2 separate regions of the Homo sapiens genome follow, and region 1 is linked to region 2. Evidence: fine-mapped expression QTL. A gene starts in region 2. The other region holds a variant in brackets. All regions are shown on one strand. Distances are between the middles of the regions. Region 1 overlaps RNASET2 (ribonuclease T2). Region 2 holds the start of RNASET2 (ribonuclease T2).

Evidence for each region.
Region 1: its variant is fine-mapped to the expression of RNASET2 in whole blood (GTEx, PIP 0.96).

The regions. Positions count from the first base shown.
Region 1 is chr6:166,931,066-166,944,313 of GRCh38, reverse strand. RNASET2 (ribonuclease T2) reads left to right here. Exons shown (of 9, transcript NM_003730.6): 5 at 1,225-1,295; 6 at 5,306-5,419; 7 at 10,178-10,223; 8 at 13,196-13,248. It also overlaps the pseudogene LOC105378119. Among named protein-coding and RNA genes, the nearest start is that of RNASET2, 19 kb to the left of the region's middle. RefSeq lists an enhancer at 2,919-3,419. The variant C/A (reference allele first, on the strand shown) is at 9,386.
Region 2 is chr6:166,951,148-166,960,704 of GRCh38, reverse strand. It overlaps RNASET2 (ribonuclease T2), which reads left to right and starts at 4,155. Exons shown (of 9, transcript NM_003730.6): 1 at 4,155-4,608; 2 at 8,157-8,217. The coding sequence starts at 4,523. RefSeq lists a cis regulatory region at 1,119-1,405, enhancers at 2,086-2,205, 9,105-9,557, 9,264-9,557 and silencers at 3,170-3,219, 3,490-3,589, 3,630-4,389.

The DNA of each region.
Region 1 (13,248 bases), 18 kb after region 2:
CTTTTTACTGACCTTTTTGGGGTTTTTTTGGTGTAGAGGGTGTGTAGAAATAGAAAAGTAAACTCCAGTTCTGTTGGATTTAGCGCGACTGGTGCCCAGGCTGCCCAGCTCACACAAGCTCTTCTCTGGGAAAAGGAGAGCTTGTCCTTTGTTTGTTTGTTTGTTTTAACTGATGGTTTCGTTTTGTTTTTTTTTAAGATGGAGTCTCACTCTGTCGCCAGGCTGGAGTGCAGTGGCGCAATCTCGGCTCACTGCAACCTCCGACTCCCTGGTTCAAGCGATTCTCCTGCCTCAGCCTCCTGAGTAGCTGGGATTACAGGCATGTGGCACCGTGCCCAGCTAATTTTTGTATTTTTAGTAGAGACAGGGTTTCACCAGGTTGGCCAGGATGGTCTCGATCTCCTGACCTCGTGATCCGCCCGCATCGGCCTCCGAAAGTGCTGGGATTACAGGCGTGAGCCACCGTGCCCGGCCAATGTTTTTAGAACAGTTATAGGTTTACAGAAAAATTGGATGGAGATTACAGACAGTTCACTCCCTTCCCCCTCAACTCTCCCAATCATTAACATCTTCTATAGTGTGTTACATTTGTTACAATTAATGAACTGATACTGATACTTTATTATTAAATAAAGTTTAGCATTAACATTAGGGTTTACTCCTGTGTTGTGCGGCTTTGGACAAATGCAGGAGAGCAAGTCCCACCCAGTGTGCTCTGGAGCAGCCGCTGGCCCTAAACCCCCTGAGCCATACCTCCCCTTCTTCCTCCCCTTGAACCCCCAAGCAACCGCGAATCTCATTCCTGTCTCTTAAGACTACCTTTTCCAAATTGTCACGTCGTTGGAATCATACAGTATGTAGCCTCTGCAGACTGGCTTCTTGCACTTAGCAATGTATGTTTGCAGTTCCTCCAGTGTCTTTTCATGACTCGACGGCTCATTGGTTTTTGTTGCTGAAAATATTCCATTGTTTGGATGTACACTTTATCCCTTCACCTATAACAGCTTGTATTTTCGTGTGCAGTTTTATGATTACTCAAATTGCACTTGTAGATATATCTTAACAAACACTTCATACAAAATAAGCATAGGATTATTTTATTCACCAAAGTATTGTTAATTAGCAGAGCTCAATTCTTTGGTGTCAGTTTATCAAATTTACCTTCTAGGTTTTGAGTTTATTATTAAGAACCTGCGTAGACTTATTTTATTTTTTAATGCATAGGATCTTTTGCCAGAAATGAGGGCATACTGGCCTGACGTAATTCACTCGTTTCCCAATCGCAGCCGCTTCTGGTAAGTCCCAGCCTCTGATTGCTGTCTTGATTACTGTCTGAGCGGGTGTGGGGAGCGTGATGAATCGCTAGAAGTGGAAACTGTGTGGGAAGCAAGATAACAGAATCTGTCTTCTGGGGCTGAGCAGTTTGAACAACCTTTTATGAGATATGATTCTGTTACGGCATTTTTGGTGCCTTTCTCCAATGTATAAAAAATTGAAAGCAAGTGGAATTTACCATATAAGCCTGTTTTCTAACCTGTATGGTATTTATTACTTTGCTTTAAAACTTTTCTCGGCCAGTCACAATGGCTCGTGCCTGTAATCCTAGCACTTTGGGAGGCTGAGGCGGGTGGATTGCTTGAGCTGAGGAGTTTGAGACCAGCCTGGTAACATGACAAAATGCCACCTCTACCAAAAATTTAAAAGGTCAGCTAGATGTGGTATTGTGCGGCTGTGGTCCCGGGAGATCAAGGTTGCAATGAGCTGTGATCAGCTGGGGTGATAACTAGCCTAGGTGACAGGGTGAGACCCTGTCTCAAAAACAAAATAAAGATACAAATTTTCTCTTCTGAGGCTTAACAAAGTCCAATGCTTGCATATCTAAGAATTAGTCCATATCAGACAGGAGAGAATATTTCTTAAGGAAATTGTGCTCCTGTCTTCAAATACATTAAGAAAAAAGAGACCAGGCACAGTGGTTCACACCTGTAATCCCAGCACTTTGGAAGGCCAAGGCAGGTGGATCACTTGAGGTCAGGAGTTCGAGACCAGCCTGGCCAACATGGCAAAACCCCATCTCTACTAAAAATACAAAAATTAGCTGGGCATGATGGCGTACGCTTGTAATCCCAGCTACTTGGGAGGCTGAGGCAGGAGAATCAATTGAATTCAGGGGATGGAGGTTGCAGTGAGCCGAGATTGCACCACTGTACTCCAGCCCGGGCAACAGGGCAAGATTCCATCTCAAAAAAAAAAAAGAAGATGTCTTCTAAAATGATGATCTCATGCCTATGACTTAGGGAGGAGAGAAAGTGAGACTTAGCATGTGAGGCTGAGACCTCAGTCATAGTGAAGCACCTTTAAGTTCAGCAGAAGCTAAGCCTAGGGCATAAACGCCATGTTGAATTCAAGATAGCTTTTAAAATCCTGGCTTTTTTAAGAACATAAAGTTAAATTCCTTGTATTAACATTATATTAACTGAAGGTAATTATTTTCTCTATCCCACTTCAATATTGCAATTTATAATTCAGATTACAACCCATCAAATTTTAGGTGGGAAGATTAACCTAGAAATATTTTTGTGTATAATTTTCAGGAAAATTAAAAGTTAAGTTTAGAAGAAAGCTTTTGAAAACAAAATGAAATGGAAGTGATGTCCCCCTTTCTGGTTCATCGGTGTGGCAGTGAAGTGGCCTTAGGATTCATGGACCCTCAGTCTGTGCGTTGAATCACCCTTGAAAATTCGGGTGGTGAATGGTTCAGGTCTCAGTCACCTGTTCTGCACAGCCTGTGTTCTAGAAAATTATTTCAAAATAATGGCCATGATAAGTTGGAATGGAAGAAGATAGGAAAAAAAATTATATGTCACTTCACAGTGTACTTCAGATGATGAGTTTATGGTAACTGAGTTATGTGAAAGAGAATTTTTCCAGTTGTTACAATGTTCCATGATAGAGTCTGTCAGATTTTAGCTAAATGGCTTAAAATAAATCAGCAAACATGCAAAGGCCTTCAGTGAGCTGGGTCTTGAGCATTTAATCAAAACAGTGTGGGCACAGTATGCATTTATTTTTGGGCTCTGATAAAGGCAAGATGACTTACTTTAAATTTTCAGGTTGATAGTTGAATTACACACTTAAAAAACTGGTTCTAAATGAAAAAGATAAATCTCACACACAAATTAATATTTATATTTTTGAGTGCTCCTAAATACAAAATATCAGCTAGGGAGGAGCTCCTGTCTGGGCTGTGTCACCCAGTCCTGTGCCTATCACTCAAGTCACCTGACTAACTCCATGGGGGTTGGCCTCTGGCTTCTCCACCTCTGCTCCTTGGGCAGGGGAAGGTGTCACAGCACTGCTGTGGAATGTGTCTTTGGGCATAACCAGCCCCGAGGACTGGCTGCCTGTTGTGGCCGAGCGGGCTGGGTGACAGTGGGTGGGTGAGCCTGGGACATCCGCTCCTGGCTGCATCTGCTCTTGGTGGGTGAGTCAGGGTGTCTCTCAGCACAGAGGGCAACACGCTGAGTCACTTCGCATTGGTGACTGACCGTTCTGATGCTTAAAAAAAAAAGGTCCAGTCCAAATGAAGTGTGAGTGAATGCTGTGAGCTCCATGAATATCAATCTATTTCCAACATCTGTTGAGTTAAGCTTGCTCCAGGAATAATGATGGCTGACATTTACTGTTTATTGTGAGCCAGGAACTGTTTTCATTCATGTGGAAGGGCTCAGCACACCTCATCTCACCTGCAGAATTACCCCTGTTTTATAGAAACTAAGTCACCTGGAATTCAGGTTACATTTCAATTAGTTTAAAATAATCTCCTTTTTCTACCTTATAGGATATAGGAAGTTATCAGGTAATTTGCTCTGGAAAGGCTTCTAGATGAAGACAGTTACTCATCCACTTTCATCGTTCCTGTTTTCAACTTTTCATCATTTTCTGAGAGTTAAATCAATAGGAATTATTTAAAACTAGTATTTTGGATGAATTTTGCCAGTGAATTAATGCACATTTAGATTGTGTTTTTAAGACTGCATATAAGTGCTTTATAAGTGGTTGCATGAATGTTATTTATTAAAACTTCATGAATTCATCACCAATAAAGCTGAGGAAATCTGATTCCCATTTTGTCTTTTCATGCTAAAGATGATAAACATCTGATGACACGCCAGTCATTCTGAAGGTGGCTGTCAATCTCGTCAGCAGTTGATTGGATGACAGCCCAGTGCAGTGGGAAGGGCGCTGACCTTGGACTTGAGCGTGGCCTTCAAGGGCAGGCTCTGAGTGACCTTCAGCAAGTCCCCTGGCCCTTCTGGGCTTCCATTCCCTGTCTGTAAACTAGCAGTGATATTTCCGCCTTGCAGAGTTTTGAGAACCAAACGAAGAACGTGAAAGATTTTTGTAAACCTTTAATCTGCAGTAAAATATCAGGAATCATTCTCAGTGACCACATTTTTCTGGAATACAAATTGCTGTTCACGTGCAGCCCTTTAGTTATAGGCTATTCAGTTGTTCTTATTGTCCTCTATGTAGAATGGATGCTTAAACTATAATTTGTAGAAGCTGAAATGGAAAATGGGCCTGAGGTGTTTCCTGGTAATTAGCTGTCCTGCCTTTCCATGGCTGGTTGCTTAGAAATGACAGTTTGTGCCACTCTGCGAAATTCCCTGACTGCAAAGCACCCACTCACTGCAGGAGACCACACGTTGCTTTGTGAATCAGTGGGGGTTGGGGCAGCAGCATGTTCTTTTTTCTCAGCTTTGATTTGTTGTTAATTGAGCAAGCTGTAATTGTAGACGTGAACTGAAACTGATTATTTAATCGTGGGGGATTGAAATAATTGCCTATGTTGCAAATAAGGAATTTTATCCTTCCTACTTTGTAAAAGAAATGACATGCCTACCACATGGGAATAGTCTGTGCTGAGAGAAAACATGCTTGAGCATTTTAATTGGGAATCAGTTTCATTACTTTTTTTTTGAGATGGAGTTTGTCTCTTGCCCAGGCTATAGTGCAATGGCATGATCTTGGCTCACTGCAACCTCTGCCTCCCGGGTTCAAGCGATTCTCCTCCTCAGCCTCCTGAGTAGCTGGGATCTCAGGCACCTGCCACCACACTCGGCTAATTTTTTTGTATTTTTAGTAGAGACAGTTTCACCATGTTGGTCAGGCTGGTCTCAAACTCCTGATCTCAGGTGATCCACCCCCTTCAGCCTCCCAAAGTGTTGGGATTACAGGCATGAGCCACTGCACGCAGCCTGTTTCACTACTTTTAAGTGGAGATTTTTCCTAATCCTCACAGGAAGCATGAGTGGGAAAAGCATGGGACCTGCGCCGCCCAGGTGGATGCGCTCAACTCCCAGAAGAAGTACTTTGGCAGAAGCCTGGAACTCTACAGGGAGCTGGACCTCAACAGGTGGGTGCGCCCTTCCCCCGGCTGCACTTCCCAGTGGGGATCTCTGCTGTCGCCCAAGCCTGACAGCTGGATCCAGGGGAGTGGGTGTAGACCTCACTGCCCTCCAGCAGCTTCTGCATGTGCACTATTCGGCTACTGGGATCATTCCTGAGGAATGTTCTGAGCCTACCAAGCCTTTCCAGATCATTCTACATCACGATCACACAGAGTGGGTGCAGAGTATTGGGATGCCCATCTGGGCACCATCTCATCATCAGAGTCGGCCATAGGGAAAACGAGGACTCCAACCAGCATGTGCCGTTCTCAGCCATGATTCCTGATAAAGGATAGTGCATTAATAAGTCGTTTCCTTAGAAAGACGGAAACTCTGGAAGTCTGTAGGTCTTTGCCGCAGAACTCCTGGAACAAGCAGGCAGGAAAGAGATGTGGGCCAGGGTTCTTTAAGCCCCAGAAATGACCCCAACCTGCCTAAATCGTCCCTGCCTGCCCTCACCTCTATTCTTGAGAAGTGGAATACGTTGTCCCACTTGAGCCAGTTGACTTGTAAAGCAAAGTGCCTTCTGAGCGCCACACCGAGCCCACTCACTGTCCGAATCTGGTTGCTAGAGAGCCAGGGTGTGCCCTTACCTCTCCGTCGGGACGTTTCAGGGTGTCAGCGTCTTAGCTGCTCTCACTGACCTTCATCATAAGAGGTCATAATAAACCAGTGAAGTCGTGAAAAACATGACAGGCAATTGCACAGCCTCTGTGTTGCTGCTTTTGGAATTCACGCAGCTTGTTTTAGAGCAATTCTCCTTCAAATCAGAATAATACCAGGAGCCTTAGCTAATCAGCTGTATTTAAGGTTTCTGAATCAAAACTGCTTAAAAGATGAATAAACCTCCATTGCTTATCTAGACATGTGCTTTGCCTCCTCAACGTACAAAATCGTCTCACACAGATGGTCTCCTGTGTCATCTGATGAAACGCAGTCTAACAGCTGCAACTTGGGTGGGATAGAGCTCAGGCACTGATAGAAGAGGGGCTTGGCACGGTTAGCGGGGATCAAGATTACATCAAAGAATGCCCTGTGAATAAACTTCTTTAAAAATCACCTCCCAGAGCGCGTGGCATTAGGTGTGCCTTTTCATCCTGGTTCTGACACTAACTAGTTGTACAATTTGTGTATCTAACCTCTAGCTCTTTTTTCCATGCTGTGAAATAAATGGATAGGTTGCCCTCAACCCTGAAGTCTCTTCCAGCTCTTAAAATCTGCACTACCAGGTATATACACTAAGAAACGTACACAGACCTATACACTTTGATTTGTATATAGTTTGTGTATATAATTTGATCTATGTAATTTAATCTTAGGTTTTTAATAAAGGAAGCATTGCTTTCTTGCAGTAAGAGCAATATTTTAGGAAACATTTTCTCACCTAACAAATGTAGCTAATTAGCTGTTCAGAAATCATTATGGGCCATGTGTGGTGGCTCATGCATGTAATCCCAGCACTTTGGGAGGCTGAGGTGGGTGCATCACCAGAGGTCAGGAGTTCAAGACCAGCTTGGCCAACATGGTGAAATCCCATCTCTACTAAAAATACAAAAATTAGCCAGGTGTGGTGGTGCATGCCTGTAATTCCAGCTACTCGGGAGGCTGAAGCAGGAGAATGGCTTGAACCCAGGAGGTGGAGGTTGCAGTGAGCTGAGATCGTGCCATTGCACTCCAGCCTGTGCGAAAAGAGCAAAACTGTCTCAAAAAAAAAAGTCATTATGAGGATTAACCAAGAGAGTGTCTTAGGTAGCTCCTGGAGCACAGGAGACTTGCAGTTAAAAAGAAAGTCTGACATTGCTGAAAGACTGGCAGGGTAGGACCCACTTTGGAGATGACAAGAAAGATGCCCTCTGTTTCAAAACAGGGGTCTCACAGTCCTGACCCTGCTGCAGAGTGCTGGTGTTTTCCAGGCTGACTCCATAAACCAGTTCATTTAATCAAACAGAGAAAGGATAAATGGATACTACTGAAAATTTTAAAATCAATCATCTAAATAATTCATCTCTGTATCCAACAAATAGTTTATTAAGTGGCTCCTACTTACACTCGTTGAAACTCAGTAGCTTTCCTGCTATGGTTTGGATGTGGTTGGTTTATCCCCACCAAATCTCATGTTGAAATTTGATCACCAGTGTGGAGGTGGGAGGTGTTTGAGCTGCGGGGAAGGATCCCTCATGAGTAGGTTAATGCCCCCTTGCAGGGGTGAGCGAGTTCCCACTCAGTTCCCCAGAGAGCTGGTTGTTAACAGGAGCCTGGCACCGCCCCCAACCCCTGGCTTCCTCTCTGGCCATGTGATCTCTGTACACACCAGCTCCCCTTTGCCTTCTGCCATGAGCGGAAGTTTCCTGAGGCCCTTGCCAGAAGCAGAATCTGGTTCCATGCTTCTCGGACAGCCTGCAGACCCCTGAGCCAAAAAAACCTCTTTTTTTAAATAAATTACCCAGCCTCAGGTATTCCTGTATAGCGACACTAGACAGACTGAGACACACACACACACACACACACACGACACATGCAAAACTCTAAGTCCTGGAGTTCCTGTGGGGATTCAGCAGAGCCCAGTGCTGCCCTGCCATTGCTGTAGATGGGAATGGTGCGTCCTCCATTCATTCATTCATTCATTCATTCAGTAAATGTTCACTGAGGGCCTGCCAGGGCAAAGCACTACTGAGAGTATGTTTGCTAAAACCTATAAAGAACAATTATAGGAAAATTATATTCTTAGTTTCTCCAAGGGAAATCTATAATTCTTAGTGCCTTCATTTTAATCTAAAAATTAAATTAAGAAGTCAAAATTTAAGACCCCTCATTTTTCCTTGTAAACTGGTATCACAAATTATCTTTTTCTCATAGGTTGGCTTTTCAAATTATCATAAACTGGAACAGGCTGGGCACAGTGGTTCACGCCTGTAATCCCAACACTTTGGGAGGCCAAGGCGGGTGGATCATGAGGTCAGGAGTTCATGAACAGCCTGGCCAACATGGTGAAACCCCCGTCTCTACTAAAAATACAAAAATTAGCTGGGCATGGTGGTGCACGTAATCCTAGCTACTCAGGAGGCTGAGGCAGGAGAATCTCTTGAAACCAGGAGGCGGAGGTTGCAGTGAGTCGAGATCGCACCACTGCAGTCCAGCCTGGGCCACAGAGCAAGACTCTGTGTCAAAAAAATAAAATAGAATAAAAAATTGTAGCTTGTTTTTCTTCACTTCATAATATGAAGGCAGCAAACCTGAAAAACCACAAATCATCTTGAAGCAAAGTTGTCAGGGTTCCCATAGACACAGATGAGCTGATGGCACGTGCTAGAGTACCCACAGATAAAGACCTGGGATGCGTGCCAAGCTCATCTCAACTCAGCAGAAAGCATGATGCTGGGTTAGGTGCTGCATTTCCCCACATCTTTCTCTCTTTGCCGTATTCCCTTGATCACCCAAGTCAGGAGCATGCTACCCAATAGACGTGTAACACGAGCCACAGATGTCATTTTAAATTTTCTAGTAGCATCATTAAAAGGAGCAAAAAGAAACAGGTTAAATTAATTTCAAAAATATTTTATTAAACTCAATATATCAAAAATAGGATCATCGAAACTTAGGATAAATATTAAAAAATTAATAAGCTAGTTTACATTTTTTTTTTTTAACTGCAAAGTCTGAAACCTGTTATTCATACAACACCAACAGCTAGGGTAGGCGAGGTCCTGTGGGTTCGGGCCATGATGGGGCTGAAAGGACCCTGGTCCGGCATCTCGGTCCTTGTTCCAGGAACTCTGTGGCCAAGACAGTCTGACAATAAGTTATTGCCCACAGAGGATGTCTAAGTCTTTGTGTCCACTCTGTGATCGTGATCTAGAATTTTCTACCAAGGCTTGATGGGGAACTAGGATATTCTTCTGCAATGATTCAGAATTTTACAGTGTACCTTTATA[C/A]TTTAATAAGTGAATTCTATATATGGTAGTTTGGTAGGATTCTGTGTAGAAGTGCTTTAGGAGGTGATTGAAAGCTGTAGGGACTTACCATACGGTTATGTATTGCTTGGTGATGGGGTATAAAATTGTCATGTGAACATCTTGGAGTGCACTTACTTAGCTGATACAGCCCACGACACACATATGCTTTGTGGTATAGCCTGTTGCTTCGAGGCTACAAACCTGTACAGTGTGTGACTCTACTGAGTACTGTAGGCACCTGTATGTAACACAATGGTAAGGATTTGTGTATCTAAACATATCTCAACATAGAAAAGGCACAGTAGAAATGTGGTCATATGGGACCGCCCTCGTACATGCAGGCCTTCACTGACTGAATGTCGTAATGTGGCGCATGACTGTGTTTAAAGATTTGTCCAAATGCAGTTTACCAGGATAAGCCTGGAATCCGATTTCAATTGCTGTCTTTTAAAGCAGGTGTGGCAAACGGGTGGTGATGTGTGTGCCAGCTCCACTCGGTGGTGGCCCCAGCGCTCCCATGCTCCGAAGGAGTCAGGAACTGGAAAGGGTACCTGCCTGGAGCAGTTTGTGTGTGTGCTAAGGGGTGGGGAAGGCGGGGACTGGGAACCATGTATTTGCAGTCCATGTTGACACATTTGTTGCATAAAGTCATAGAAAACACTTTCCTTTAAGAGTGTCTTAATTTTTACCATGAAATATGATACCTGAAAAGAACAAGAAAGCAAAGTGGACCTTCATTATACAGCTAACTTTTTTAAATTTAAATTTTAGTGTGCTTCTAAAATTGGGGATAAAACCATCCATCAATTACTACCAAGTAAGTCTTGCTTTTGCTTCTTTTCTCGTGTGTCTCTCCCGGGGACCTCCAGTAGGGCCGTTTCAGCCTCTGAGTCAATGGGCTGTAAATTGCCCCAGTGCAAACCCCCTTCCTACTTAAATGTTATCATGTGAACAGATTTTATTTGCATTTTATTTTCCTGCGCATGTTGAGTAGGAGCTGAAGGCTGCTTAGACCAGTGATTTGGAAGCACAGATTTCATGGCTCCCTTTGTGAGAAGTGTGTGCTCCAGGGTCCGGCAGAGCAGGTGGAATCTGCAGTTTCAAGAGTCACATTCACTTTTATAACGTAGTCTTATATTTGTTTGTGGTTTGTTTTCATGATAAAATTGTGATTTGTTTTATGATAAAAGAAACTATAGATATTTAAGCATGACAAGATGTTATTAGCTGGTAAGCATATACAAAAAGTTGCTTTTTGCCAGGTGTGGTGACTCACGCCTATAAATCCCAGGACCTTGGGAGGCTCAGGCTGGAGGATTGCTTGTGGCTAGAATTTCGAGACCAGCCTGGGCAGCAGAGTGAGACCTCTAGAAAGAAGTAAAAGTAGCTGAGCATGATAGTATGTGTCTGTGGTCTCAGCTATTCAGGAAGCTAAGGTCAGAGGATTGCCTGCGCCCAGGAATTTGAGGCTGCAGTGAGCCATGGTCGCCCCACTGCACTCCAGTCTGGGCGACAGCCAGATCACGTCTCTTTAAAAAAAAAAGAAAAAGTAGTTGTTTTCAACTCTTGGTTGCCTGTTTTTGTAAACAAAATTGTACTCCTTTGTTACCTGGGGATGCTTGTGCTCCCATGGTGTAGCTGCAGTAGGGACCGATGTGTCATCCACAAATCCCGGGATATTTACGACGTGGACCTTTACGGAAAATGTTTGCAGACTCTTGCCTTAGAGAAAGGTATCAGATTCTTTGAGATAGTTTTCGTATTTATCACAGGTTGTGGATTTAGAAAAAGGTTGAAAGTCACTGATCTTAGTAGTTCTGGGGCGATGGCTGGATGTTGAACAATTATTTTGGTATCTTGACTGTTTGTGAAATAAATTGGCAACAGTGTCTTTGCTCTCATGGTGTCTGCTTACCTGTGCAGCCATTTTTCCAGAGTGTGGGGAGCAGTGGACTTGAGGAAGGAGTCTACCAGCCCTTTCCAGACTCCCCCTCAACCCCAACCCCAGGAAGCCGTAAGATGATCGCTTGCAGGGCCCTCACCGTCCTCACCTGGACTCATGTGCGAATAGATGAGGGACATGTGCCTGCCATGTTTGCCCAGAGCTCGGTGTTCAGGGAACTGATTACAGGGGTGGCAAAAGCCACAGGGGCCACACATTTGCTGAGCTGCTTCCAGGTGCGAACGGCGCTTGTTTGGGCATCAGAAACAGCACGGTGGATACTCGGAGTCCTGTCCTTTGAAAGGAGTTTGATTTATCATCAGGAGAAATTTGTTGCTTTTGCATCCAGCATCCAGCCACGTATCCACTCATCTGTTTTATGGGGAAATCAGGGCTGCGGGAGCACCCAGGAGAGCTGCCGACCCAGACATTTCCTGGGAAATGCGTTGCTGAGATGGAGGCCTGCAGCCTGCCCAGGCCCTGAGGGGAGTGGTTCAGTGGAGCAGAGCTGGGGGCTGGGGGCTGGGAGATATGGGACCAGTTGCTTCTTGAGGGGGCTCAGGGGCAGAGCAGGAGGGTTGGGAAGGGGCCGGGTGGGAGCCATAGACATGAGGACCTCATCCTCCAGCAGCGCTGAGCTCTGAGTAGGCCGGGGTGTTTGCTTGTTGCTGTCCCCGTGGTACTGGGGAGAGGCTAGGCACAGAGACCCTCCGAGTAGGTCACATGCTGGGGGAATCTGGGCCTATGGCTATGCAGCTGGAGAGGAAGGGATAGTGTGGGGAGCTTGGACTTGGCCGTTTGGGACAGGGGGATGGGAGAGGCAGAGGTCCTGCCTCAGGCCTCCATAGGAGTGACATTTGCTGGTGTCAGAAGCTTGGCAAGAGGGGAGGATGATCAGACCCTGCATGGACAGTTCGAATTGGAGCTCTCTGCAGAGTCCAGGAAGAGAGGTCTGGATGGGAGGGAAGCCATGGGGTGGAAAAGATAGCTTCCAATGGAAGGCAGTGAAAACTCGCCATAAGTGAAGGAGAAGAAGGAGGCCAAGGAGATGGGGCAGGAATGGCAGCCGGCAGCCAGGCGGTCAGTGGAGCAGGTGCTCAGGAGGCCCACAGGAGAGCTTCGTGGAAGGAGTGGACAGTGTCTGAGGCAAGGGGCAAAAGGCATCTGCTGGAGCTGGTGACCCCAGCTTGGTGCCCCCCAAAGCCAGAGTACGAGGCTGAGAGGATGCAGGTGTCCTCCTAGGAGGTTTGAGTCAGAAGGCACGAGGCAGAAGCAGTGGGGGAGGACTCCCTCAGTAGAGCGAGGAGGAGGCCCCTCATCCAAGAGGAGGTTGGAGCACAGGGGGGTCTAGGTTTGCAGTTTCGGGACCGGTAGCTGAGGGGTCCCAGGGCCTTTCTTCTGTGAAGGAGAATGTGTCCACCGTGGGGAGGGGGTCGGGAGAGAGAGATACTTCAGAGTGGACAGGGCTGAGAAAGCTTTATGGGCCGCGAAAGGCAGAGTAGTTGTTGGTGGATGAGGGTGGCTGTGGCAGGTGGCGTTTCAGGTGAGACAGCTCGGGGCCCAGAAAGACACTGGGAGGAGGAGAGCTCTGCTCTCCAGAGAAACAGGAGCAGAGAGGAAAACAGAGCCGCAGCGAGCGGCTTGTGGTCTGGGGATGAAGCCCAGGTTGACAGCATCCTCTGCTTCGCTGGTGGAGGTGGGGGCATCATTCTCACACCTGTGCTGGGTCCTGTCCCTGCCAGCCAAGGGAGACCAGGACCCTGCCACTGTTGCGCTCAGGATAGTCCAGAACTGTCAGATCTTTTCTGTTGAAGTTTAATTTCTAATACACTTGTATTTAAAATCAGGTTGCAGATTTTAAAGATGCCCTTGCCAGAGTATATGGAGTGATACCCAAAAT
Region 2 (9,557 bases):
CAGGCTGGCATGGCAAGGCCAGAGGTGCTGGGACACCCTGACCAACATGGTCAAACTCCGTCTCTACTAAAAACACAAAAATTAGCCGGACGTGGTGGCACACGCCTGTAATCCCAGCTACTCGGGAGGCTAGGGCAGGAGAATTGTTTGAGCCTGGGAGACGGAGGTTGCTGTGAGCCGAGATTGTGCCACTGACTGCACTCCAGCCTGGCTGACAGAGTGAGACTCTGTCTCAAAAAAAAAAAAAGAAAAAGAAAAAGAAGAGAAAGGGCAGGGAAACACCCAGCAGCTGGCCTCACTTTCTCAGCAAATAAGTAATTCAGGATGGAAAGGAGTTTTTAAGGTGAGATTCTTTCAAGTGTGACAAAGCTCTTTAGAGCATGAGAATCCTAAACTGTGTAGTTGTGCCACTGCTCTGCCATTGGAATGGCCAGCACCAGATATGGGCTGTTCCTACCGCCTGGGTTCCAGAGTGAAAAATACCGTGGACCACAGTGGCATCTGACGCATAGCCAGCATGGAATATGGGCAAATGAATGATAAATGATCAACTTCCGTTTAAGTGAGACACTGAGATTTGGGGGCGGTGTATTATTGTAGCATAACCCAGCAAAAGCTGGCATGGAAACAGGAAACCTGGAGCTAATGCCAAGAAGAGGTTGTGTGGTGAAAGTATCTTGGTCTCTTCAGAATTAACAAGGATTTAAGGATGTCTGTTCATAGACATGGCTGTTGCCATCCTGTCCCCCTCCCCTCTCCTAAGGACATGTTTCTATACAAGCCAGCAGCATCTTTTAAACCTCATAGTTTGTACCCTTTTACACTATGTTGTGTGAGTCAATGTAATTCCCACTCTGGCCCCTGCCCACCTGCTTGATGCTGGAGCCCTCTTTGTTTTCGTAAAGCTGGGCGGCTTCCAGACCCAAATCCAGCCTTTACAGCCACTGCCTCTTCCCTACGTAGGGTTCCGTTTAGGATCCTGGTAGGTGGACAAGTAGTGAACAAGACAGATGACAGATGCTCCAGGTTCACATCCAAGTTTTGGGGGGTTGAGAGCTTTTCCATTTGGATGTCCTTCTTTAAGAACAAGAAGGTAAAATTGTGAATACGGAATGAGATATGGGGTCTTGGTGGGGCCCATGCCAGCAAGGGGCCTGAAGCTCCTCATTAGCTTCCGATGTGGGGGTGGGGGAGTAGAAGTGGGCAGTACAGGAGGAAGTGACAAGAATTCTCAGGGGTGGGGAGAACTGTGTCGAAAATAAACAAGGAAGTGCAACAGGAAATGACTGGGTGGCTTCTTCAGGCTGGGTAGGACGCTGCTGAATTTATCTGATAAAAATCTCCTCTCTGTGAGTTGTGGAAAGTGGCTTGCTGCGAGAGACCCCCTTCTTCCCCACATAACATAGGTAAGAGTGATAGAAGTGATGCAGCTGGGCGCTGTCTCCAAAAAAAAAAAAAAAAAAAGGAAAAGTGACGGATGCTCCCCTCACTCCACCCCCTACCCATTACCTAGGACAAAGCCAGACACAGATCCTCCAATTCCCATTCTTCACCTCATCAATGATGAGCCAGTCAATAGAAATAACACACTTGTTAAGCAAACTTGGTGAGGCTCCTCTCTTCCCCCGAGGCTGAGGACTTTTGGCCTCATCTTAGCCTGAGTCAGTCCCCCCTGAGAACAGGCTGGCCACGGGGTCAACCTTCTCTGATCTAATGTCCTATGAAGGCAGGTTCTCATCCCACTTCTCCATTCCCAGTTCATTCTTTCTCTCTCTTTCTTTTTCTCTCTTTCTTCTTTCTTTCATTCATTCTTTTTGTTGTTGTTGTTGACCGAGTCTCACTCTGTCGCCCAGGCTGGAGTGCAGTGGCGCGATCTCGGCTCACTGCAACCTCTGCCTCCTGGGTTCAAGCGATTCTCCTGCCTCAGCCTCCAGAGTAGCTGGGATTGAGGGAAGAGAGAGACCCTCTCATATTGTTTTATATTGTTTTATACTCAGTACCTGTTTTAAGAAAAAAACAAGGAAGTGAAATCAAAGACAGGCAGCCCGGCGCCAGGCCCAAAACCGGACCTGGGCCTGCCTGGCCTAAACCTAGTAGTTAAAAATCAACTCATGACTTAGAGACCGATGTTATTCATAGATTCCAGACATTGTATAGAAGAACATTGTGAAACTCCCTGCCCTGTTCTGTTTCTCTCTGACCACCAGTGCATGCAGCCCGTCACGTACCCCTTGCTTGCTCAAATCAATCACGACCCTTTCATGTGAAATCTTTAATGTTGTGAGCCCTTAAAAGGGACAGAAATTGTGCATTCGGGGAGCTCGGATTTTAAGGCAGTAGCTTGCCGATGCTCCCAGCTGAATAAAGCCCTTCCTTCTATAGCTCGGTGTCTGAGAGGTTTTGTCTGCCGCTCCTCCTGCCACAGGATTACAGTCGCGTGCCACCCCCGCCCAGCAAATTTTTGTATTTTTAGTAGGGACAAAAGGCCCCCAGGCCCCTGCAATAATGGTCCTCATAACACCACTCCTCCCCGAGTCCAGATTTGCTTTATATTTGGCAGTGGTCACAACAGCCCTCCTTGACAAGGGGCTGTTTAAACACACCGGACTGTGATTTAAAGGAAAATGAGGATTCTGGGAAGCACTTTTGTTTTAAGAAAATTATTTTTTTAGCTTAAAAGAAAAGAGAAAAAGAACTGTGGCGTGTGCCTATATTCTTGAGAGGAAGGAATGAAAGGAGCCGGAAAGAAACAAATAAGTCGTTAGGGAAAAGGAGAACGAGAATAACACCATGACCTGTAGGAGGTCCTGGAGGAGCTAAGGAGGTGTCAGCCATTTTCCCCCCCCATCTGTTCCACAGGTGGCATTTTATTGAGCACCGACTGTCCCCCATCCACTGTGCTCAGTGGCAGGGACTCAAGGTGGGCAAAATAGACATGGGCCTTGCCTTGCAGTCTAGTGGGAAAAACAGATTAATCATTTAAATATTTTGTTTCAAAGAATGGTAATGCATGCAGGCAAGGTCCAGGCCTGTGGGAGAGCAGGCTACAGGCCCACCTGCTATTTAGACAGTTACCAGTGGCAGAGGACCCCGAGGAAGGCGCAGTTTACTCGACGTGTAAATAGGAATAGCCTTAACTAGCTGTGGGTGTGCGGACAGGGAAGGGAAAGAGGAGAAACATCTGCAGAGACAATGCCGGGTGCACAGCCCGTGGGCGGGGCCGCGGGTGCAGGGGAACCCGTGCCTCTGAAGGGCTGGGAAGGCCAGGGTGTTGGGGGAGGAGACCGGGCCTATGGGACTGGCCCTGGCTACGCCAAGGTGGGGCTGACATGAAGTCCCCTTCATCCGTGGGGGGTGGCCCGTCCCTCTGGGAGGGGATCCCTCACAAGATGACTTCCCAGGTCGCGCCCCGAGGCGGCTCTTTGCTGCCCCCACAGAGATGACTTCCGGGCTCCTGGGGCCCGCGGGGAGGGGCAGGTGAGGCCCAGGGCTGGGTGAGGGCCAGGCCCTTCTAGGAATGTTGGTGCTCCCAGCACCTAGCACCGGGAGACTGGAGAGGTTTCCAGGAGAGTGACCCGAGTAGGTCCCCTCCTAATTCTGGAGCCGTCCCTCGGGCTGCGCAGTGGAGCGCCGAGGTGGCGGGAGGCTGCGGGGAGCCTGGGCGGCCAAGCACCATCTGCAGTCAGGAGCTCCCGGGCAGCTTGCAGGGCGCAGTTTTTGAAAGCGGGTGCTGCGTGCGGACCGCGGGCCTGCAGGGTGCGCGGGTCGGGCTGGGGGCTGTCCCTGGAGAGTAGAGTGGCCCTGGGGCCCGCACGCCCACTTGCTGGCGGGGGATGGCGCAGACACGGGCGGTCCCCCCGAGGGCGGTCCTCACGGGTGGTCTAGGTTAGCTCGGACCCGGGAGTGTGGGAGTGGCGCAGAGCTGCGGGAAAAGGCGCGGGGCGCCTGCGTGGCGAAGGAACACAGCCGCCTGACACGCCCTCAAGGCCCGCGGAGCTGCTCCTGCCTCGGCCTCTCTGAGCCAACCACGGGGCGGGGCGTGAACGCCGGGCGGGGACGTGCCGTTCTGGGGGGCGTGTCCACCGGCGGGGGCGTGCCGTCCTGGGGGCGTGGCTCTCTGCTCCGGTGCAGGCCCGCAGGGCGCCCTGGGCTGGGAGCAACGCGACTGACCGTGGTCGTGGGCGGACGGCGGCTGCAGCGTGGAGGAGCTGGGGTCGCTGTGGGTCGCGAAGCAGAGCCCGGGACGTGCGCGCTTGGTGCACGATCCTGAAGGGGAGCTCCGAGGGGCCCGGGTCGCCAGGGCTGCTGCGGCCATTCCCGGAGCCCGGCGCGGGGCCCGCGAGATACTGGTTTAGGCCGTCCCAGGGCTCCGGGCGCACCCGGTGGCCGCTGCTGCAGCGGAGGGAGCGCGGCGGCGCGGGGGCTCGGAGACAGCGTTTCTCCCGGAAGTCTTCCTCGGGCAGCAGGTGGGAAGTGGGAGCCGGAGCGGCAGCTGGCAGCGTTCTCTCCGCAGGTCGGCACCATGCGCCCTGCAGCCCTGCGCGGGGCCCTGCTGGGCTGCCTCTGCCTGGCGTTGCTTTGCCTGGGCGGTGCGGACAAGCGCCTGCGGTGAGTTACCTTGCGAGGTAAAGTGGGGAGCGTGGGAGCCGGGCCCTAGAGCTTTCCACTGGGTGAAGGCTGCAGCTCTCGGGGTCGGCGGTCGCTGAGCCCCGGGCAGCGACTGGGGAGGGCGGGGGGAGCCGAGCACGCTCCGGGGTGACCCCTGGGAAGAAGTTGGGAAGTTGAGCACGCCTCGGGGTGACCCCTGGAGGGAGTGGGTTGGGGGGAGCCCTTAGCACACTCAGAAGTGACCTCTGGGAAGGAGTGCGATGAGGGGAGTCCTGAGCACGCCCCGGGGTGACCTCTGGGAAGGAGTGGGTTGGGGGGAGCCCTGGGCACGCTCTGGGGTGACTCCTGGGAAGAAGTGGGTTGGGGAGCCCTGAACACTCCCCGGGGTGACCCCTGGGAAGGAGTAGGGGGTAGGGTGAGGTCCTGGGTACACTCCAGCCTGGAGCTGGACTGGAAACTCATCCCACAGACTGCTCCCAGCCTAGGACGCGACAAAGCAGGTGGCAGGCTTGGTGGAGCACTGTTCCTGCACTCGAAGTTCTCTCAGAGGTCGAAGAAGTCGTGGAGGGGACACTTAATTTCAGCTTTCACTGCGGCGGGTGGTGAAACGACGGTTCTTCCTCTTTTTGAGTATCCTGTTCTGAATCCCTTCCCTTGGCTCGCCCTCCGCGTGTGTGTGTGTGTGCGCGTGTGTGTGTGCGCGTGTGTGTGTGTGCGTGTGCGTTTGTGTGTGCGTGTGTGTGTGCGTGCGTGTGCGTGTGCGTGCGTGCGTGTGTGTGCGTGTGTGTCGTGTGTGCGCGTCTGTGCGTGTGTGTCGTGTGTGCGCGTGTGTGTGTGTGCGTGTGTGCGTGTGTGTGCGTGCGTGCGTGTGTGCGCGTGTGTGCGTGCGTGTGTGCGTGCGTGTGTGCGTGTGTGTGTGTGGCAGCCGCCCAAATTAATTAGGGGTAAACAGGCGGTGCTGCAAAGAACTCCAACTTTAATTCTGTGGAAGATACCAATATTTGAATACCATATTATTTCTTTCTATTTGGGTAATGATCGGGTTAATAGGATTTCTTACTTACATAGTAGGTGTGGAAAAGGTGGGTTTTACTTATTTATTTTTTTTTAGACAGTCTTACTCTGTCACTCAGGCTGGAGTACAGTGGCGTGACCTCAGCTCACTGCAACCTCCACCTCCCGGGTTCAAGCGATTCTCCTGCCTCAGCCTCTGAGTAGGTGGGATTACAGATGCACACCACCACGCCTGGCTAATTTTTGTATTTTTAATAGCCAGGCTGGTCTCGAACTTCTGACCTCAGGTGATCCGCCCGCCTCGGCCTCCCAAAGTGCTGGGATTACAGGCGTGAGCCACTGCACCCGGCCAGGGTTTTACTTTTTAAACACCTTAGGTATATATTTTTAATCATGTACATTAAAATGTAGCATTATATTTCAGTGTTCCGGAAAGTGTATTTTCTGAAAAAGAGCTACATTTATGTCCTTATTTATTGGCCATGAGGTTCAGAGCCTCTCACTGGGGAAGTCTGTGGCATGCTGGCCCTTGCTGGCTGAGTGGAAACTGCTAGTTCACACCCAGGTGTGGGACCTTTGAGCTCTCTATGCCCCAGTTTCCTCATCTGTAAAGTAGAAATAGTAACAGTCAGCCTCACAGAGTTGGCTTCAGGAGAAATCAGTTAAGGTACAGAATGTAACTTGGAATGATGTCTGGCTGGAAGTAAACATTAGCATAAAACAGGCTGTCATATGTGGATCCCCCACCCCAGCCCATAATTCATGCAACTGATATGATCGGACAAACTTGAGCAGGCAAGATTTGCGAGAACATGGTTGATTCAGACCACGAGGGCTTCATAGGTCAGCGGGCATTTTCCCAAGTTCTAACTGGTTTTGAGACCTTGGTGATTTTTCTTTCTTCTTTGACTTTCTTTAGCTTCTCCATTACTTTCTCCGTGAATAGGGGAGGGGGGCATCTGTGTGGGAGGGGGTCTCCTGCAGTCACATCACTCTGCCTGGTTTTAGATGGAGAGTTTGTTACAAACGTCTGAGTCTTGGTAGTTTTGTTGTAAGCATATTGATAGTCTCATCTTCCTGGGTGTTGCTAAGCTTTCCAGCCTCAGGTTCCGACTATGTAAAATAAGGTTTTTCACCCAAGGGTAAAAAATGCTTTACCAGCTCCAATTCTCACCCTGCAGCTCATCCTTTTTTTTTTTTTTTGAGACAGGGTCTGGCTGTGTAGCCCAGGTTGGAGTGCAGTGATGTGATCTGGGCTCACTGCATCTTCCACCTCCTGGGCTTAAGCTATCCTCTTGCCTCAGCGCCTTCCAAGTAGCTGGGACTACAGGTTCATGCCACCACACCTGGCTAATTTTTGTAGAGACAGGGTTTCACCATGTTGCCCAGGCTGGTCTTGAACTCCTGAGCTCAAGCAATCCTCCTGCCTCTGCCTCCCAAAGTGCTGGGATTATAGGTGTGAGCCACCACGCTTGAACCCTTTTTTCCTTTTATACTGAGAGCTTGCATAATTAGTTCCAATGTACAACTAAGTTTTCATACCATCTTAACTGTAAATTCTATACAAATTCAACAGGACTCAATTATTTACAAAAGCTAATGTGTGACAACTTGATCTTCTTACTTGGAATCTTCCCTTCTAAAATTTGATTTATCCTGAAGTGTCTGCTTGACTTATATCCTGTGTTGCTGCTGGCTTTTTCCATGTGCATTTTTTGCAAGCTGCTCTTTTTACTTCAGTCTCGTTAAGTCTTGCAGTTCTGGCTAGAGGCCTACTGCCATGAATAAGCTGCCGCTCCACAGTGGCTTCTTTGAAGTCTTAGAGTCAGATGAGTTTCACGGTGTTCAGGTTTGTGATCCAGTGTGGCCCCAGGTTCTGGGTAACACGTGTGATGCAGTGCTGTGTGCATACCATGTCGTGAATAACATTCATGATGCAGTGCACATACCGTGTTCAAGTTAACAGTCCTGGTGGCATCTGAAGTAGCACCCTAAAATCAAATGACACAAATTCTGCAGAGAAGCAAGTGAAGTCTAAAAACTGAGTTGGGGTAGTAACGATAAATAGCGTTATGCTAGTTCAGGTTATGTTTTGTTGCCAAATGAATTACAAAAAACTACCAGGTTTCAGGCTTTTATGGGTTTCACGAATGCAGGGGAGGGATCGTGGGTCTGCATTTCTCTTGAGCATCCTTAGGAGAAAGGTGCTTCGTGGCTCAGTGGCTTCCCTTCAGTGAGGCCCTCCCTGGCTGCACTCCTAGCTTGCCCTGCCTCCGCTTCCCCTCCTCTCCCCTCCTCCCCTTATCCTATTCATGTTCTCCGCCACTCAGCACTGGACGCCACCACACGTGCCTTCTTAGTGTAGGGGTGTACCGCCTTCCTCACGGGAGTGTGTGCAGCAGCAGGGCAGGCAGTGTTCCTCCTCCCACAGCACTCAGTGCTGAATGAATGATTGAAGGGATGGATGGGTGGATGAATTTTTTCTGTAACTTTAAAAAAAGTTCTTGAAAAATAAGTTTCTTATGTTTTAACAGTGACAACCATGAGTGGAAAAAACTAATTATGGTTCAGCACTGGCCTGAGACAGTATGCGAGGTGAGTGTTTCTGCCTTGACGGGCCCTGGGGCCTGGGGAGCCCTGTGAAGAGGGGTTTGTGTGCACGTGCCCGTCCAGGGCACCCACGCTGCTGGTGCGGGAGGTAGGCATCGCTCTGGCGGGTGGGCGGTGTCTCCTGCAGAGACTGCCTCCAGGAGGGCTGTGTGTGAGCTTCCCAGGGCTGCTGTAACAAAAGTGCCACAAGCTGGGTGGCTGAGAGCCTCAGGAATTTATTCTCACGGTCCTGGAAGGGGAAGTTTCAACCTAGGGGTCAGAAGGGTTGGTTCCTCCTGGAAGGCTCTGAGAGAGTTTGTTCTGTTTCTCTGCTAGCTTCTAGTAAGGACCCGTGGTCCTCTGCGTTCCTGGGCTGACCCATCACCCCAATCTCTGCCTTCTCCTTCACGGTGTGTTCTCCACTTTGTGTCTCTCTGTCTCTTCTGATGAGGACACCAGTAATTGGATTTAGGGCCCACCCTAATCTGGTATCACCTTTTCTTGATGACATCTGCAAAGACCCTGTGTCCATGTAGGGTCATGTTCACAGATGGGAGGAGGGGTTAGGACAGGGATATATCTTCTGGGAGGACACGGTTCAACCCACAGCAAGCCTCAGTTTGTCTCCTCCCTCTGTGGGCGGCAAGCCACCCAGGTGCCAAGGCAAGAGACCGAGGGCATAAGCTGTTCCAGTATAATAAAGAAAATATATAAAATGAGAACAGTTATACTAGAAATAGATTATAGATATGATGATATATGAATATTATTAATCATCAGTTTGTAGCATTGCTCTTTATTCCAATATTATAATAATCCTTGCTCTACAATTACAGCCTAGGAAAAACCAGGCCATACAGAGATAGGAGCTGAAGGGGCACGGTGAGAAGTGACCAGAAGACAAGTGTGAGCCTCTGTCACGCCCGGACAGGGCCACTAGAGGGCTCTTTGGTCTAGTGGTAACACCAGTGCCTGGGAAGGCAACCATTACTTAGCTGACCTCGGTCTAGTGGTAGCGTCAGTGCCTAGGGAAGGCACCCGTTACTCAGCAGACTGGGAAAGGGAGTTAGAGCAGACTCTGCTTCACCATACCTCTTGTGGATAGGCCTCATATCAGTCAGGCCTGCCCACAGCCATCTGGAGGCCTAACCATCTCCCCGTGATGCTGTGCTTCAGCAGTCACACTGCTGTTTCACTTTCATGTTCCACCCAGTACACCTGGCTCTGCCTTCTAGATAGCAGTAGCAGAATTAGTGAAAGTACTAAAAGTCTTTGAAATGCATAGAAGAAATAATGGCGTAAGCTGGCCTCTCTCTCTCTCCGCCTCCGCTGCCATACAGGGAAGG